Linked DNA regions of Homo sapiens. Changing the gene in region 2 together with the main gene of any one other region gives a genetic interaction. Each region holds a gene or a part of one and is shown on either strand. Other genes may lie near its edges.

Evidence for each region. A genetic interaction does not mean that the proteins touch.
Region 1: changes in PRKAR1A (region 2) and PTP4A3 together harm fitness less than expected from each alone (positive genetic interaction), as found in Homo sapiens cells (one study listed by BioGRID).

Annotation. Positions count from the first base shown.
Region 1 is NC_000008.11:141,430,021-141,432,998, reverse strand, and holds the end of PTP4A3 (protein tyrosine phosphatase type IVA 3), read right to left. Parts: intron 2,073-2,978; coding exon 1,955-2,072; 3' UTR 545-1,954; downstream 1-544. UniProt on the Homo sapiens protein: Protein tyrosine phosphatase which stimulates progression from G1 into S phase during mitosis. Enhances cell proliferation, cell motility and invasive activity, and promotes cancer metastasis.
Region 2 is NC_000017.11:68,508,490-68,515,467, reverse strand, and holds the start of PRKAR1A (cAMP-dependent protein kinase type I-alpha regulatory subunit), read right to left. Parts: upstream 3,039-6,978; 5' UTR 2,920-3,038; exon of another isoform or gene 2,490-2,919; intron 482-2,489; exon of another isoform or gene 349-481; intron 75-348; 5' UTR 69-74; coding exon 1-68. UniProt on the Homo sapiens protein: Regulatory subunit of the cAMP-dependent protein kinases involved in cAMP signaling in cells.

The sequences.
Region 1 (2,978 bases), on a different chromosome or scaffold from region 2:
CACTCAGCTCAGGCAGTCCTTCCACCTGGGGCATCTCCCCCACCTCCCGACGTGGTACTCTGCACTGTGCCCCCCCCAGGCCCCGCCTCCATGCCCCTGTCCCCCTGCCCCCTAACAAGGTGGAGCACACCAAGGCCCCACCTCCATGCCCCCATTTCTCCTGCCCCACGAGGTAGAGCACACCAAGGCCCCACCTCCATGCCCCCATTTCCCCTGCCCCCCAAGGTGGAGCACGCCAAGGCCCCGCCTCCATGCCCCCCATTCCCCCGTCCCCCCGGCAAGGTGGAGCACCCTGAGGCCCTGCCTCCATGCACCCTGTCCCTCAGTCCCCCCAAGGTGCAGCACCCCAAGGCCCCACCTCCATGCCCCCTGTCCCCGCCACCCCCCGAGGTGGAGCACCCCTAGCTGTAACTGGGAGGCTTACCAGCCTGTCTTCCCCCCAACCCTGCTAGACTGTGAGCCTCTTGGGGCAGGGACATGGCTACACAGGGCCAGCAGAGGTGACCCCAAAACTTGGCTGGTGGATTGAAAAAATACAGCAAACTTCACCCAACATGCATTGGATTTACTTGAGTTCCAAATGTGTTTGAGGAAAGGAGAGAATAACCATCCGGGACAGCTGTTGCCCTTTCTCCACACAGGAGCTGGGGGAGCCAGGTCTGCGGCCCCCTTAGCCATCTGTCGGTCTTGGGGGCAGGGCTGCCTGAGAAGGGGCTTTTGGGGTTTCCACATCTCCCCATCTTGTCCACTGACCTCCTCCAGCACCTGCCCCAGTCGCTCCTTGCGGGAACCTCCTGGGGCCCCAGGACGGAGACCACTCCCAGGCTCTCCACACCCTGGAGCCAGCCCTAGGCCCACCTTCCTCCCCGCTGGGGCCATGCCCTCCATGCACCCCGGCCCAGGGTGGGGCCAGCCCCCAACACAGACACTGCACCCAGGAACACATGAGCATCTGGTCCACGCCCTCCGGCGGGCCCTGGTCCAGGCCTCTCACATCCAGCCCCAGGTGCCCAGGTGGCACCCTCCCTCCCTGGGCTGATGGATGGTGACTTCCTCCACCCAAGCCACCACCTGCCCCCTTCTCTGCGCCTCGGAGCCGGAAATGTGGACACCTGGTTTGGGCAGCACAGGGACCAACCAGCCGGACACAGGCCCTGAGAAGCTGCCAAATGAATCCCAGCCCATCCTGCAGAGGACAGTGCTGGTGACCTGCCTCGCCTTCCAATGTCACAGTCCCAAGAACCGTCAACACGGCCACCCTGGCCAAGGCAGGGCTCCCACCTCGGTATCAGGACAGGACAGGGCAGGCTGGCCCCTGGGTCGGGGTGCAAGGACCCAGAGCGGCCACCAGAGGGCAGCGCAAGAGCACGCGGGAGCCCCATCCTGGGCACCAGCCCAGGATCCAGACAGCAGCCTCTGGGGCCCCCAGGCCACCAGCCCGCCCCGCCTGACGCTGTAGCCCACTCCACACACACGGCCACGGCTCCTGTTTTATTGCCTTCGGGTGTCCGGAGCACCTGACTGCCCCGGGGTCTAATAATTTAAGGTGCCGAGAACAGGTCAGGACAAGGGGTCGCAAAAGAGGGGCTGGGGGCCCAGTGGTTACAAAATATACCCCCACCCCACAACAAACAGGCTAGAGGAGACCAGCCTGGCTGGTGTGGGAGGGGGCGGGCAGAGGGCGCCCGACCCACCTCAGAGAGACAGAGCCACGGCCAGCGCCGCCAGAGGGAGTGGCGGAGACAGGAGAAAGGGCCCAGAGGCCACCCAGGGCCCGAGGGGCTCCTCGCTCCTCGGACACAAGTGCACGGAGGTGTCGGGGAGGAAAAGGCGATGTGGGGCCAGCCAAGGCCTGGAGCCCCTGCTGGGCTGGGCAGAGCAGGGCTGGGCAGGGCCTCCAGGTCCAGCCAAGGTCCTGACCTACATGACGACCAGGCCCAGCCAAGGTCCTGAGCTACATAACGCAGCACCGGGTCTTGTGCGTGTGTGGGTCTTTGAACCGCAGCCTCTGTTTGGGCCGGTATTTCTCCAGGTAGGTGAGCTGCTTGCTGTTGATGGCTCCGCGGCGCTTCCTGGGAAGAGGGGAACAGGAACAGAGATCATCCAAGGACCTGGCTCGGCCATCTCACCTGCCCCAGGGAGCTGGAATCTGAGAGTGCAGTGGGCTGGAGTAAGGCCTTGAGGCTGGCCAAGCCCCTCCTGTCCCAGGGCCTTGGCACGGCTGCTCCCAGAGTCACAGTCACCCTTTCCTGGCCCCCTGCAGCTCACCCCTGCTTGCCTTCCAAACTCACCAAAGCGCCACCTCCTCCAGGCTGACTCTGGGCTCCCTACGGCCCCCAGGCTTCCCTAGCTCGGTAGGACCCACCCCAAGGCCATGAGCAGACAACAAGGGTGGTGCCTGGGCACCTCCACCATCCAGGAAGGGGGGCCTGTGAGTAAGGGAGGGGCTGAGCCCAGAATTCCAGCCCAGCTGCGCGACCTTCCCTTACAACAGGGACCTGGGCTGCATGCTCACCCTGTCCCCACCATCCCCACCACCTGGTCCTTACAGCGGGGACCTGGGCTATGCGCTCACCCTGTCCCCGCCACCTGGTCCTTACAGCGGGGACGTGGGCTGTGCGCTTACCCTGTCCCCGCCACCGGGTCCTTACAGCGGGGACCTGGACTGTGTGCTCACCCTGTCCCCGCCACCGGGTCCTTACAGCGGGGACCCGGACTGTGTGCTCACCCTGTCCCCACCATCCCCACCACCTGGTCCTTACAGCGGGGACCTGGGCTATGCGCTCACCCTGTCCCCGCCACCTGGTCCTTACAGCGGGGACCCGGACTGTGTGCTCACCCTGTCCCCGCCACCTGGTCCTTACAGCGGAAACCTGGGCTGTACGCTCACCCTGTCCCCGCCACCTGGTCCTTACAGCGGGGACCCGGACTGTGCGCTCACCCTGTCCCCGCCACCTGGTCCTTACAGCGGGGACCCA
Region 2 (6,978 bases):
TGGACGTAGAGCTCACATTCTCGAAGGCTGCGTGCCTCCTCACTGGCGGCGGTACTGCCAGACTCCATGGTTCTCTGCGAGAAAAAAACACACACATGCTTGTATAAACTATAAAGCAAAATGTCAATCTGGCATTTAACTTGCTAAATTCATTAGACAACTGATTCACAGGGATTTTTTTCTAAGTAGATTTTGTTTTTAAACAGGGAAGTGGGGACTAGGGAATAAAATATGTACAGAATTAGCATTATTCCAAGTAAATGTTTCATTTAGTTCAGGATCTGTGCTCTGTAGGCAACAGTGAGAGTCGATAACCTCAGCTCCTGGGAGGAAGTATGAGCCACTAACCTCTGCAGAGACGGGTGCTGAAGTCAGGCCCTTAAGGGAATTTCATTCAGTTCTCCCTCAAAAGAAATCATGATGACGTGGGAAGTAGGTAAACGGTAAACAGGATACAGAATTACCAGGGCACAAAAGTCAACTGTAAGCGAAAGCAAGTCAGCACAATGAAGAATATCTGACATTCCCTATACGTAACTTCTATCCCATGGGAGTATCCTAACGTCACAGAGCAAACCACTGGAGTGAGGATCTGATTAGCCAACTACTAGCATAATCAAAATTTTTAAAAACACACAAGAAAATTAGATGAGTTTTAAAAGCAACCTTTATTCCAGACTCGTTTGCCAGATTCCACCCCTAAATGATAATACACTAGTGGTAAAAGAAGGAAAATCCTTAGTTGGGGGAGGGGAGAATTCTTACCACATAAACTGTAAAACATTTGGACAGAAAATTGTCAAAATATTTTCTTCATCTTGACAGGAGAATGTTAAAACACTTAAGTTTCAAACTTGCATGAAGATTCAATAGATAAATTGCATTTAATGGATTACATTTAATGGATAAATTGCATTTAATGGATTTTAGAGGATTCGAATTATGGTACCTTTATGTAAAGTAAAGCAAACAGAGATAATGATGAGCAGCTAACCTTACCCTAGAATTAAAAGTTTACTAATTTAACAACAGGGTCATATACTGTTTTCCTTCCAACTCCTAATTACTAAGCACTTAAGAGTAGAAGACAAGAGTGTGGTCCCCTCCACTCAGCAACTGAATTCAATACTAATCAGACTTTTCCAATTATAATGCATTGTAAACTATTGAGATGAAACTGTAAATTTAAAAGAACTTATAGAAAGAATTAACAGAGTAAAGAGCTATTCTAAAGTGCTACACTGTTACTCATTTTGTTTTGACAACTTTCACCATAAAGGTCAACAACAAGTAGACTAATTAACAGACCATTAGAAAGTTCGTGGCTCCAAGACAAGCACATAAATTAGAAGCCATGGAAAAATAATCATGCTGCTACTTTAAACAGGCAAAACAAAAACAAAAACGCGCATTTACTTTAGGATAGATTTATACAAGCCACTTCTCCAGGTCAGGCAATCATATGAACTGAAGATCCACTTCAGTAGAATTGTCTGCATTTCAAATAATACTTAAAGGCCACCAAGAACAATCATAAATCAGATCTTTCATGCTTCAAAGCATTGTCATATTTTAAGAACATTCAAATGATCAATCATTCTAAGATCAGGTCTTTGGCTGGTAGAGATGAGAGAACTGGGCCTAAGGAGTGAAACTGTGTTTTTGTTTGAAACAACTAATGTATTACGAAAACCAAAAAGATAGCCACCGGTAATAGGACAGTATACGAACAGAAATGTACCAAAATTAATGCAGTCACCATGTAAATCCCTGAATAACCAGACTTCACAGTCTTAATATTTTTAATCGAGTTACCCGGATTCTCTATGTGTACTTATTTGTAAAGCCCAACAACCTAGCCTTCCCTCCCCACACACAATTATTTAACTGCTTTAAAACTTTCGCTGCATTGTCTCTATGTAAAACAAAACACTCAGATTCATTCTTTTGAAAATTCAGTTGTGACAAAATTGTTTCGAAAGGATTACATTCTGGGAAATAAATAAAAACACTTTGAGAAACTGTTCCTGATTCAGACCGCACCCCCTTAGACCAGCCAAGTTACGGCTCCCCTAGGGTCATCTTGAGTAAGTGTTTGCTTTCCTCGCTCTGCTAAAAAGACGGATCTCTTGGGAATCTCTCAAGGAGTAGGACGGTCGTCACCACAGGCTCTGAGCTGAAGAGGTTAATAGGTACCGTGTATTTTCTAGAAGAAGGGCAGGAAAATGCCCTTCACTTCACGTAGGCCACGGTCATGACCACAAAATGAAGGGAAGCCGAGACTTCAAGCTACGCCAGTCGGAAGGCCACAGTGGTGGCGAGGAGGCCTCAGGGGGGCAAAATTGGGAAAGGGAGAGAGGTGAAAGGGGACAAGAGGAAATTCAGGAGCCCGACTAAGACCGTCGTGTTGGGGGAAAGATCACTCCGCTATGAAGAGGAAAGGCTACTGCTAGCAATGACGAGTCGTCAAAAGTGGAGAGGAAAACTACCGGCTTACAAGAAGAGCCAGGACCGGCGGACGAGACGATGGCGGACCCCAGTAAAATAGAGCCGTTGTCCTTCAGGAAATGGGGGAGGGTGAGCGAAGAGGCCGCGGCGCGCGGGGGCGAAGGCGGCCGGGGAGGGCCGCGGAGGGCCCAGGGCCCCAGGAGCCGTGGGGTGGGGGCAGCGAGCGCGAGCGGGGCGGCTGGGGAGCCCCGCACCAAAGCCAACGCCCAGACGGCCTTGAGGATGCAGACTCGGAGCCGGGGGCGTGAGGCCTGCGGGGAGGCGCCCGCCGGGCCGGGGAGGGGCAGGGGGTGCGGCCGTCCCCCTGCAGGTCGCTCCCCGTGACGCCATCTTGGATCGGTCCAGCTCCCGCAAACCGGCTGCGAAGCGACGAAGCTCACCTCGCCTGAGCCCCCGGCCGACCCCACTCACCTGGGGACGGGCGGCGGCGGGCGCGAGGCTGCGGGTGCGAGGCGGCGGCGTACCGAGCTCCCTCAGCGCTTTGCTCCCAGCCCCGCTCCACTCTGCGATAGCGGCTAGGCGACAGCTCCACCGGAAACGGCCTGGCCGCAGCCAATCAGCGTTCGGCTACTGACGTCAATGCGCCTCGCTCTGGCCAGAACCGTCGCCTTAGCAACCTTAAGGGCGCAACAGCCCCAGTTCCTCCCCCCTGGTCGCTCTTGGAAGGACCCTCACTCTGCGGTCGTTCGTCTTCCGCCATTCTTTCCATCTTACTCGTCCCTTATCCACAGCAGTTTCCTCACGCCCGCCACTTCTCCTTTCCGCAGTCTCCCTAGCCCGGTTCTCTCCTCCTTCCTGCTCACCTGCCCCTCCTTACCTGTCCCTCTCTGGGTGTCTTGGGTCGCCTTTGTTCCTCCGCCTGCTCTTCGCTCTCTCTCCGCGCAGCTATCGTGCGCTTCCCTCTCGTCCCTCCGCTCCTCTGTCCACCCCACTCTCCCTCCGGCCTCCCTTGACGCCTCTGCCTTTTCTCCCTCCTTTCCACCCCCTCCCTGGCCGACCCACGTGGGGCGTCTCAGATGACAGGTGGGCGACTCCTCCCCGCAGCCCCTGCAAGGGAGGGCCCCGGGCCGGGGCGGGGAGAGTCCTGTCGCTGCCAGCCCCCGGAGGAGGTGGCGGCCCCCGCGGATCTGCAGCAGCTGCGCTGCGGGGCCGAGCGCGGGCGGATGGCCGGGATGCGCTCTCCGGGCCGCGCATCCTGTGCCCGGCCAGCGCCGCCCGGGCCCCGGGCTCAGGTCAGTCATCCGGTCCAGGAAACCTGAGCCCTGCCGAGTCTCCGCTGGGGCCGCTCTCCCCCGCCGGGGGTGCTGTCGTCTGTGCAGGCAACACCGTCCCTGTGGAAACCAGGCACGGGAAAGGACTTTGTCAGGGTCCAAGAGGAGGCCTGAGTCCTTCTAGAACCTGAAGTGCCCCCCCATCACTCCTGACCTCACAGAGGGAGAAGTGCAGAGCGTGCAGATTGTCAAAAATGCCCTGTGACCCAACAAGAAATCGCAGCTGTCCAGACAAGCTGCACTAATGGGGAAAATTCGGAGGAAAAGCGACTTTACTCTTTCAGCCATTTTTTTTTTCCATCAGAGTATCTGTCTAAGGAGGAAGAAAAGGGAGACGGTACAATTTTAGACACATCAAGTCTGTAACTCAATAAAGAAGGCCCATCAAGGAAACATGTCCAAGTGTCTGGCTAGGGGCTGCTTTAGTAGCATTGTATATATTTCTAGGGCCGTGTGCTTAAAATTCATAATGGATTCAACACAATACAAAAAAGCAAAATACACACATATGCAAGTGTCCAGGAGCTGTTGTAGTAACATTGTATATACTTCAAGGGCTGTATGTTTAAAGTAAATCATGAACTCAACACAATACAAAAAAGTAGCTCAATAGTGTTTATATTGATTCCAGATTGAAATGATAATATTTTTGATATATTAGGTAAAATATTAAAGTTAATTTCACTTTTGTTTTTTAATTCTTAGTGTAGCTATTAAAAAGTTTAAAGTTACACAGATGGCTCCCATTATATTCCTATTGGGCAGCGCTGCCCTCGGAGGCCGACTGCTCCCCCAAATCCACCAGGCTCTAAGGGTACTGTCCATCAGATGATTTATTTAGTTATGTTATTCACTGCCTTCTGATAGGGATACATAGGCGATATCAAAAGGGCAATCAGGCTTACAGGGGGGAATGGAAAAGGGAAGTTTCTCCTTTCACTGACTCCCCAAATGTTGACCATTGGCCCTTCTCCAGGGTTGATCAGAAATGGGGATAAAAGAGCCTCAGTCAGATAGGATTTCACTCTTGACAGTACAAAGAAGGGTTGATAAACTGAACCCTACGCTGGCAAGCAGCAGAGGGAATTTGATAGCATTGAGCAGGCCCGGTCATGTTATGGGAAGAAAATATTGCAGTCAGGTAAATCTGAGTTTGGTTTCAGGCTCTGCCATGTCCGGTAATTGACTTAATCTCCATGGGTGTCCGTTTCCTCGGTCATAAAAGGATGAACAGGACTTTGTTGAAGTTAACTACTAAGGGTATAACAGCAAACACACGTATAGCACTTACTGTGTTCCAAGCACTGATCTAAGGGCTTTACACATAATTAATTTAATCCTCATAGTAACTCTTAACATAGGTAATATTGTTATTGTTACAGAAAAAAACATGAGACATGGAGAAGTTAAGTGACTTGCCCATGGCCACACAGCTAACATGGCTTAAACCCAGGCAGTGATCTTAATCACTCTCCATTGCAGAATAGATAGATCTCTCTCTCTCTCTCTCTCTCTCTCTCTCTCTCTCTGTCTACATATATATATATGGTGTTCAGTACAGTGGGGGATATATTAAATGAATGTTAATTTACTTCCCATTTCTCCCTCTTCCTGCAGAGCTACCCAAACTACAAGGTTAAGTCAGAGTGACACTATGTCCCACCATTAGTGTTACCTTCCAAGTGCAGTTAAGACACTAAGAATAAGGAAACAAGCAAGCTGCTGACATTGAGCTGAGCACTTTGAGTGACAGCTGCTTCCTTGCTGAGTCCTGGCTGTGTGTCCCCATTCAGCTGCATGCAGGCGCCAGTCCAGCCACGGGCCATTTCCTGTGTCAGTCACACTCAACCTTGTTCTAGGTGCCAAATCCTCATATGCTGGGGCTTTAGGAGACATAAAGGGAAATGGGCAGTAGACAGTTGAGCCCGGGGAAAGTTCAGTGAGACAGCTGTTCTGAAAAACTAAATAGCCTCAGTGCTTTCCAAATGGTGCAAATGTTCTTTCAGTGCCACTGTGCCACTGTGAGAATACCAACTTGTTGGTATTCGTAAATTATGTTTCAGAAATGACATTTGTTCCACTGTAGTTTCTGTATGGTTTCCCTTCTCCAGAGGCCTTCTGCCCTTGATTCAAAGGTCTGTTAGCCTTTCCTTTGGACTGTGTCCTTGAGAAACTCAGTTTAAAAATATGTTTCTAGAGTAGTGGGATTATAAGTAAATTTTCCTGTTTAACTGGTGGCTAACATCTGTAATCCCATCACTCTAGGAGGCCCAGGCTGGAGGCTTCCTTGGGCCCAGGAGTTCAAGACCAGCCTGGGCAACACAGTGAGACCGCCGTCTCTACAAAAAAATTTTAAAAATTAGCCAGATGTGGTGACCCACGCATGTACTGGGAGGATTGCTTTAGCCCAGGAGGTCAAGGCTGCAGTGAGCCATGATCGCACCACTGCACTGCAGCCCTGGCCACACAGCAAGACCTTCCCACTCAAAAAACGAAAAAGAAATTGCATAATTGCTGTTACAATGCTTGTGAAACAATACCAAAAACCATAAAAGCAAAATAAACATGAGTGATAAGCAGAAATAGAATTAAGAAAGCTAAAACGTGAAAGGAAGGAATACTTTGGTGGTCCATTTCTTGGTGGTTCTTGCACCTAAAGTTTCCATTGGCTAAACACAGATCCACGTATTTCCAATTTCAAAGTCCATCACCACCTACTTATGGTGTACAATGGTACTGAGTACTTATACTTCCTAGGAGACCCAAAGTTGTGGTTTCAGACATAACTAATTCCAGCAAACACCCGAATGCCAAAATGTCTTCCTACTTTTCTCACTGGCAAATGCTCATTTAAACTAAGGAGGGGTGTTTATCTTGAGCATTAATTGAAAATATTAACCAAGAAACCAGAAGGGTGGCAAACTTGGATCTAACACTAAAGCGTTCCAAGTAAAAATATCTTAATCTAAAACATATCTTCATCAAAAATAGCATATTTACTTATTCATTCAACTTTTATTTTAGATTCAGGGGTACAGGTGCAGGTTTGTTACCTGGGTATATTGTGTGATGCTAAGGATTTGGGTACAAGTGATCCCATCACCCAGGTAGTGAGCATAGTACCCAATAGTTTTTAAATCCTTGCTCCCCGACTCCCCCTTCTAGTAGTTCCAGGTATCTATTGCTGCCATCTTTATGT